2 separate regions of the Homo sapiens genome follow, and region 1 is linked to region 2. Evidence: fine-mapped expression QTL. A gene starts in region 2. The other region holds a variant in brackets. All regions are shown on one strand. Distances are from middle to middle. Region 1 overlaps RADIL (Rap associating with DIL domain). Region 2 holds the start of AP5Z1 (adaptor related protein complex 5 subunit zeta 1).

The links. PIP is the estimated chance that this variant, and not a neighbour inherited with it, causes the effect.
Region 1: its variant is the best candidate, but not a certain one, in a credible set for the expression of AP5Z1 in subcutaneous fat (TwinsUK, PIP 0.66).

The regions. Positions count from the first base shown.
Region 1 is chr7:4,821,248-4,825,629 of GRCh38, reverse strand. It overlaps RADIL (Rap associating with DIL domain), which reads left to right. Exons shown (of 15, transcript NM_018059.5): 6 at 3,076-3,236. Among named protein-coding and RNA genes, the nearest start is that of SNORD165, 14 kb to the left of the region's middle. The variant AG/G (reference allele first, on the strand shown) is at 2,298.
Region 2 is chr7:4,773,671-4,777,980 of GRCh38, reverse strand. It overlaps AP5Z1 (adaptor related protein complex 5 subunit zeta 1), which reads right to left and starts at 2,358. Exons shown (of 17, transcript NM_014855.3): 1 at 2,225-2,358. The coding sequence starts at 2,265. RefSeq lists enhancers at 1,680-1,789, 1,810-1,869, 2,210-2,279, 2,710-2,799, 2,840-2,889 and 2 more and a silencer at 2,400-2,529.

The DNA of each region.
Region 1 (4,382 bases), 48 kb before region 2:
GCTGGGATTACAGGCGTGAGCCACCGCACCCGGCTTTTTTCTTTCTCTCTCTCTTTCCTTTTTTCTTTCTTTCTTCCTTTCTTCCTGGGTGTGATGGCGCTGGCTGAGCTGTCTGTGGTTTGCTTTCTCACTCACAACCTCTCCAGGTGGGTGGATGTGGCTGACCCATTTTTTGGGGCACGCCATTCCCTGGTCCTCTCCTGATGGACGCGACAGGCATGCATAGGCTGTGGCCGGCAGCCCATGCTCTGGTCTCTGTGCTCCTTGTGGGCCCTGCGAGTGTTTCCATCGCCTTGGTTCCCAGGAGTGGGACTCCAGTGCTTCCCTCCACCCGCAGGAGATACCCGCGCCTTGACCAGCCTGCCTCAGCCAGCTGCGCCCGTTCCTCCTGCCGGGCCGTGCTGCCCCTGCTGAGTGCCCTTCCCCTCTGCCCTCTTCTAGAACTGCCCCAGCCAGCTACGCCTGTTCCTCCTGCCAGGCTGTGCTGTCCCCCCCCGAGTGCCCTTCCCCTCTGCCCTCTTCTAGAACAACATGGGTTTTCCTTTTCCACCAGACCTGCTCCTCCGTCCACACAGGCCTGGGTAGGATGGGCTGGATCTTCATCATTCCCTGGGCCCCCACTCACATGGCCCCAGGTTGGCAGGTGGGGGCGCGTTCAGTGCCAACCTGGCCCGAGTCTGATCCCGAAACTCCAGTTGCAAAGCCTGGTCACTTGTTTCCTGGGACAGGCCTGTCTACCCTCCGGGTTCCGGTGAAATTGAGAAGGGCAGCAAATTTTGAAAACAAGATGGAATTAGTCTCCGAAGAGCCCAGCGAATCCTTCTTTAACTGTATAAAAAGCTCCTTCTGCCCATCTGCAGACATGCGTGTCCTTCAAGCCAGTGTCCAGAATGGGCAAAAAGGAGCAGGACTTTGAGCTGTGCCAGACACATGAGCAGGCAGCGGACCTGCTTAGCCGCCAAAAACAGGAGAGATGGTCTCAGTCCAGTTTCTTCCCTCCCCGGGTGTGTGCACGCGAGAGAGGTCAACATTGTTTGTGGACAAAAGTGAAGTGACGTCAGAGAGAGCAGGCAACACTTTGGGTACCGGGGAGAATCTGGGACGCAGCCTGGGGTTCCTCCCCCAGCCCTGCTCGGCTGCCCAGCTGGGGAAAGAACAGGGAGGAAAACAGGGCCTCAGCCCTTCCCAGATGCCCTCACAAACCGGCTGCCTTAAGGTCCTGGTGGCATTTCCTGTGGGCTTGGCACCTTTCAAAGGACCCCAGGCCGGGTCCACACACCTGGGACTGAGCACGCGATGGTCACTCTGACGGCCGTCCAGCCTTGAGCCTGGCTCTGCCCCGGGACTGGGGTCAGGCACTGGGCTGGCACCATGCCCTGCGGCCAGCAGAGTGGCAGCTGCCTGGCTCACCCCTTAGAATCCCCCCAGTAAGGGACACAGGTGACAAGGGGTACCCGGGCCAGCCATGGGGCAGGCAGCAGGGCCGCCCTCCACACCCCAGGCAGACCCAAGTCAGATCTGTGTGATTTGATCTGTTTGCAAAAGGATCCCTTCTGCTCACTGCTCAGGGGCACACACGGCCTTCTGCTCACTGCTCAGGGGCACACGGCTATTTGTGTCCGCCAGGTGCGATTATGGAGACTTAGGGATGAATGCATCCTCTGAGCTGCCAGGACCCTGGGGCGTCCCAGGCATCTTGTCCAGTGGCTTAATGCTGAGCTGGTGCATGGACCAGATGAGCAACCTGTGAGAAAGATGTGTGGCTGGCATTTTAAATGAGGAATTACCCGGGCACCTCAGCACAGCCTTGCCACGTCCACCCCTCAGACGTTCCAAGAGGCTGCTGAGGACACTAGAAGGCAGTGTCAAGTCACACCAGACAGACACATCCTGCGGCTGGTGCCAGAGATGTGGGAGAAAGGGTTTGGGAGCTCTGAGCTTGGAAGCCAGCCTGACGGTGGAGGCTGCCGCTGAGGGAGGAGGCAGCCCTGATGATGCCGTCATCCCCTGAAAAGGGAGCACTGAGCCGGAAGGCAGCAGGCCTGGGAGGGAAGGGCGCCCCCCCAACCCCTACCTGCATTGGGCTGGCCAGGCAGGGGCCTGAGCTACTTCTGCTTTTGTTACTCAGAGTAACAATGAACCCCATGGATACAGAATCAGGGCTAGGCATGGTGGCTCATGCCTATAATCCCAGCACTTTAGGAGGCCAAAGCAAGAGGATTGCTTAAGGCTAGGAGTTCAAGAGCAGCCTGGGCAACATAGCAAGACCCTGTCTCTAAAAAAAAAAAAAAAAAAAA[AG/G]GTTTTTAATAATTAGCCAGACTAATGTTTGTATTTTTAGTAGAGACGGCGTTTTGCCATGTTGGCCAGGCTGGTCTCGAACTCCTGACCTCAGGTGATCCACCCGCCTTGGCCTTCCAAAGTGCTGAGATTACAGGCGTGAGCCACCACGCCTGGCCTCAGTTTGGGTTTCTAACGATTGCCTCTGAGTCTTCAAATCTCATGCTTTGCCTGCTACCCCGCGATTCATGGACTTTACACGTGATTTTCTGACTTCCTGCTTTAATAAAGTAGCATTTCATTTTGCCTTTGTGCACCTCCCAAAATAGCTCTATTATTGTTTATTTCCTTTGGTAATTACCTTGTTAACTTAAATAATATAATGGAACTGACATTTCTTGTTCTGAAAACCATGGACCAGCCCCCACCCCCATGCACGCATACACGCACACACACACATATTGGCACACATTCTCTCAGCATTCACAGCCACTTTATGATCTCATTCCAAAAGAGAAGACATGCAAGCCATCTACTTACCGAGGTTTTTTACCAATGGCTGTGGCGCCCAGCTGTCTTCCTGCTAGGTTTGTAGGGTCCTCTGGCTGTCGGGTGTTGTAGGCAGGTGCCAGGCGGGTACACGTATTGTTAAACGTCCCCGCCCAGCAGTGTCAGGTTGATGGTTGCAGTTGTTGTCAGCGTCCCATGAAAACGCGCATCCTTATGTAGAAAGAGTGGTAGATTCAGCCTCCTGAGGGTCGGGTCCCCGCGTAACTCTTAGTCTTTCTGTCTTGGTAGCCAGGAGCCCATCTCGCTGGCCAGCTGCGCCATGGCTGATCTGGTTCCAGACTTGCAGCCCATTCTTTTCTGGATGTCTAACTCCATCGAGCTCCTGTACTTTATCCAGCAGAAATGCCCACTCTACATGCAGAGCATGGAGGAGCAGCTGGACATCACAGGTACGGCTGGCGCTGCCCTCCATTCCCCCCGCCAGCACCCCAGGCAGGGGAGTGTGGCATCTCCTCGCCGTCCTCGGAACCTAGTTGGCCATGATAGCAGGGGTGGATTCATGCCGGGGGCTTCCTCAGTCCCTAGGCTGCCATGTGTCAGTTGCTCGGGGACGGCCTGTGAGGCTGGTGCTGGTGGCACGGGCCAGTCTGGCACCTCCCCCCACAGCACCTTGGCACTCAGTCTGTCCCCATCATCCCGTGTGCTCCGTGCGGTGGCGTCCCCTTGACCGCAGCCCCACTCTTCTGCTTGCAGGAGGGCCCGGGGGGTACACAGATCACTCAGTAGGGGAGACACAGATGCCACCGTGAACCAAATGTAAGGGGCGGTAGAGAGAGCGTCGGCCATGAGACCGCCGCCCGTTCTGAGACACACCGTTATTCCAGAAGGACAGATGTTGCCAGTCATTGTTGTGAAATTGTAGATTATGTCGGTTTCACAGATTAAGATGTGGGAAATACACATTTCGGGATTTCTTTTTCTTTTTTTGAGACGGAGTCTCGCTCTGTCACCCAGGCTGGAGTGCAATGGTGCGATCTTGGCTCACTGCAAGCTCCGTCTCCCAGGTTCAAGCGATTCTCGTGCCTCAGCCTCCCGAGTACCTGGGATTACAGGAGCATGCCACCTCGCCCGGCTAGTTTTTGTATTTTTGGTAGAGATGGGGTTTCACCATGTTTGCCAGGCTGGTCTCAAACTCCTGATCCGCCCCACCTCAGCCTCCCAAAGTGCTGGGATTACAGGCATGAGCCACCGTGCCTGGCCACCATTTCAGGATTTCTGAAATGCAGTAGGAAGTGTTCTGAAAATACTAAGGGAGAGGGATTCCATCGGGGCAGTCTAGGGGGCTTCGAGAGGAAGGTGGCATGGGGCCGGGCCCGGAAGCCGGGGTAGGATTTCGGCTCATGTGTCTGCTAAGGACTGTGTGGGGCCTGGAATGGAGCCAGACGGGGCAGCAGGACTGTGCTGCTGTGCTGCGGAAGTGAGGAGCCGGCCCAGGGAACTGGGGGCCAGACCTCTCATGGGAAGCCTTGGTTCTGCCCCCAACGGCCTTGCTGTCCACCCACTGCCCTCACATCTGTGGGGTGGGCTGTCAGGCG
Region 2 (4,310 bases):
TCCCGAAGTGTTCGGATTACAGGCGTGGGCCAGTCACTGCGCCTGGCCGGCTCCAAACCTTAACCCTCAAACTACAGTCATTTATTTTAAAATATCATCAGAAATCACAGGCTTAAGAATATTGTGAAAACTGGTAAGCCCTAATAGATTAACCTTCTTGAAACCCTAACAGAGGGCAACTGCAGAACTCATGTATGTTACATAGGGAAATTCAACCACACTCTATCCTCAAAAACGGCTGCCCACCCGAGCCAGGGAGGCAGAGAAACAGGTATTTAAATAGTGAGGGCTCAGCCGGGTATGGTGGCTCACACCTGTAATCCCGGCACTTCGAGGGGCCGAGTCAGGCGGATCACCTGAGGTCAGGAATTCGAGACCAGCCTGGACAATGTGGTGAAATCCCATCTCTACTAAAGATACAAAAAATCAGCCGGGTGTGGTGGCGGGCGCCTGTAATCCCAGCTACTTGGGAGGCTGAGGCAGGAGAATTGCTTGAACCCAGGAGGCGGAGGTTGCAGTGAACTGAGATTGCGCCATTGTACTCCAGCCTGGGCGACAGAGGGAGACTCTGTCTCAAAAGAGACTCTAATAAAAATAAATAAATAAATAAATAAATAAATAAATAAAGAGGGCTCTTCCTTTTGTTTTTCATGTCACAAGTTTATGACCTTGAGCAGAATGTGACTGGGAATGAAGTTCTCAGTGGGTGTTTTTCCTTGTCTCTTGGCAAGGACCTTGGGATTAACATGTTACATGCTGAGATGCCAGTATTTTTCATTTTCATATAGTCCCCACATTCACATGAATGACATATCTGTCCAGGATTGAAGGGAAGGTTGCCTATGTTGAGCTGCTGGGAGATGGTGCTGCATATTCACCAAGCCTCTTCCTAATGAGTGGACTCTTAAGGGTTATTTTGATCAGAGATTTTTGTCCTGTTCGGGCTTTAGAACTTAACCTGCCTTCAAGACCTCACTCACTATAATCACAGCAATTTCAACCACCCGAATCTTTCCCACCAATTGGTCTAGCTCTGAGTCCAGGTTTGCTTGTTTGTTTTGACATGGAGTCTCGTTCTGTCACCCAGACTGGAGTCCAGTGGTGCGATCTTGGCTCACTGCACCCTCGGCCTCCTGGGTTCATGCACTTCTCCTGCTTCGGCCTCTCACCTCACCAAGTTTGTTTACGTTTACCAAGGGGCTGTAGTGCTGGCTGTATTTTCTTTACTTTTTTTCTTTTTTCTTTTGAGACGGAGTTTCGCTCTGTCCCCCAGCCTGGAGTGCAGTGGCGCCATCTCAGCTCACTGTAACCTCCACCTCACAGGTTCAAGCAATCCTCCTGCCTCAGCCTCCCGAGTAGCTGGGATTACAGTCACCCACCACCACGCCCGGCTAATTTTTTTTTTTTTTTTTTTTTTTGTATTTTCAGTAGAGACGTGGTTTCCTCATGTTGGGCACGCTGGTCTCGAACTCCTGACCTCAGGTGATCCGCCTGCCTTGGCCTCCCAAAGTGGTGGGATTACAGGCGTGAGCCACCACGCCCGGTCAGCATTTTCTTCTTTTAAACATGTAGTATGAAGTCTTTGCCTGTTTGGTGGACCGTGAGTCTGTTCAGTCCTGGCTTACACTGTTTTCCCCCATGACTGGTTAGTTGGTGAGGAAGGAGCTACTCACTCGTTACTGGGAGTCCAGACACAGCCTGAAACCAGCCTGGAGGGTGATTTCTCAGCCTAGCTAATACATCCGCGCAAGAGAGATCTTTTTAAGTCACAAAACCCTCCCACGGTTCCGCAAAGCCCTCGGATGGCCTCCAGCTCCCCAGCCTGGCACACAGCCTTATTCCTTAGCAGGCCTCCGGACACTGTGACTTTGCGTTCTTGACTGTGAGGCACTGAAATCTCCCGGCTGCCCGATTTCCTGCCAGACGCGGAGTTCTCACCGCCAAGCCTTTGACTAAACTGTCGACTGGGTCCCACCCCACTTGCTTTCACTCACCAAGACTCTGCTCAAGTGTCACCTCCTCCGGGGACCCACCATGACCCTCCCCGACCTCCTCACCCCAAGCCTGGCCGCCGTGTTGCCTTACCCGATCCCCAAGTCTCGAGGGCGAGTCCAGTCGGGTTCCTGCAAGGCTGGCGCCCAAGCCCCTGCCCTGTGAGACCCACCCCCGTGTGCCCCTAGGGAGAGATGCAGGAAGGAGGGCCGGGGCCGCAGCTCCCCCGTACCTGGCCTGGTGGAGCAAACTCTCCGCTCCTGCCGAGAACATCACGCCGCCGCCACCAGACGCGCACGAACCTCGGAAACTCCAGGAGCTGCAGCCCAGGAGCTCCGCACCCCGGTCAACTTCCGGGACCGCGTCACGTGAGCGCAGCGGCCTTACGTGGCTGCGTCACGTGCCGCATCACATGAGCAGGAGGGACAGGTTGCCGACCAATGGGCTTTGGCGTGGAGCGACTGGGGCGGGGCGTAGGTGCCGCGGCCGGGGGTCCGGGTCGGCGCCTGGGAGCTGCGGAATCGCGCGACCCCGGAACCTCGGCACTCTGGAGCCCCGGCGCCCTTCGACCCCGGAAAGCATTTCGGCGGAAATTGGGCGCCTGGGGCTTTGGGAGAGGGCATTGCTGGCCCCAAAGTGTCACTGCCCCAGTTCTGGTTTCTGTTTCGTAAACAGCTTTGTCGTGCGGGAGTCCCTTTGCTAAGTACGACCTGAAAATCTGATGCAAACTCCGACACTTGTGGGCTGAGCCCAGCAGTGTCCAGCAGTTTGCAAGGAATAGCCGCGGCTCTGGGCAGTTTTGGGGATTTTTTGAGCTCCCATTTATTGAGCACCCATCCCGCGCTGTTCCTGCTGCTTGAAACGAAAAAATCCCTTATTCAATCCCCACGGTATTCATGGGATCTCGCGATCTCTGTTTTACAGATGAGGCCACAGGCTCGGAGAGGGGAAGTTTCTGTTCATTCTAACGGATGTGTTGGGTGCCCAAATGTGCTGGGCCCTGGCCATAAGTTTGCCATCCTGCAGACGGCCGAGGGACACAGGGCGACACGCCAGCGTCATGATAAACGCTATGACAGCCTGACCTGGTTGGGGGTCCAACCGGAGGAGGAAGGCTTCGGCGACTGCGGCCTAAGATGAGCCCAGAGGGTGTCCAGACCAAGGGGTGGGGAGGGACGGGCCTAGGGTAGCGATCTGCTTCCTATGGCTTAAATGCACCCCAGGAGGAAACTGATCTCTGGCCGCAGGGGAGATAATGGATTGGGAAGCTCCTGAGGGAGAAAGGAGGCTGGTGCAGTTGTGGTCCAGGTAAGGGAGGTTGCCCCGAAAGTAGGCAGATTCAGTACCATTTAGAGGTAGGATTTGCACCACCTGTGATTGAGGAATTTGCAGGCAGGAGGAAGAAAGTGGAAAAATCAAGGGTAACTTCATGTTTGTGGGGTGTCTGTCTGGGGCAGAAAAGGACGAGGAAATTTGTGCCAAGAGTCATTCATTAAGTGGACAAGCGATGATTGAGTCCTAGCTGCGCTAGGCACTGCTGAAGGTTCTGGGGAATAGGGTAGGGGTGGGAATCAATGTTGCGTAGATAGGGTGGGTCAAGGTTAGGCCTTGAAGGGATAAGCCCCGAGAAGACCCCTGGATGGAAGGAAGGAGGAGGAGGAGGGAGGGCTTCCTGCAGGAGTTCCAAACATGGCTTTGAGATGCCCTAGGGCGCCCAGTGATGTCTGAGGGCACCTGGTGCAGAGAATGAAGAGATGGGAATCGGTGGATGGTGAGCGGTGGATGGGAGTCGGTGGAGTGCGGCGGGTGCCCCTGGAGCCGCAGGTTGAAGACTGGCAAAGGAAAGCTGGTGACAGGTAGTCTATGGAAAGCCTACTGCCAGTGTTTAACGTTTACTAGGGTAAAACGTCCACACCAAAGCGCACAAATCTTAAATGAACTCCACTATTTACATTTCTAGAAATCGGTGGTAAATTTGCAAATGTCTTAAGCCTCGGCTCCATTGGCGACGGTGGGGAGCCGGGGGTTGATTTGTGTTTGATAATTTCTGTGGTGTAAATGTTCCTGCCATGGTTTGAGTTCAAGACCTAGACCATTTCCAGCTCCCCAGAGGTTCCCCGCTGTGGCCCCCTCCCAGTCAACGCCCACTCCCTTCCCCCACAAGTAACTGCTAGTCTCTCTTATCACCAGAGATTAGTTTTGCGTCTTTTTATACTTCATGCAAATGGAATCGTACCGTACTTAGCTTTTCTTGTTCGTCCATGAATATTTGGTCGGTTTCCAGATTTTGACAATAACGAATAGAGCTGCAGTGCACA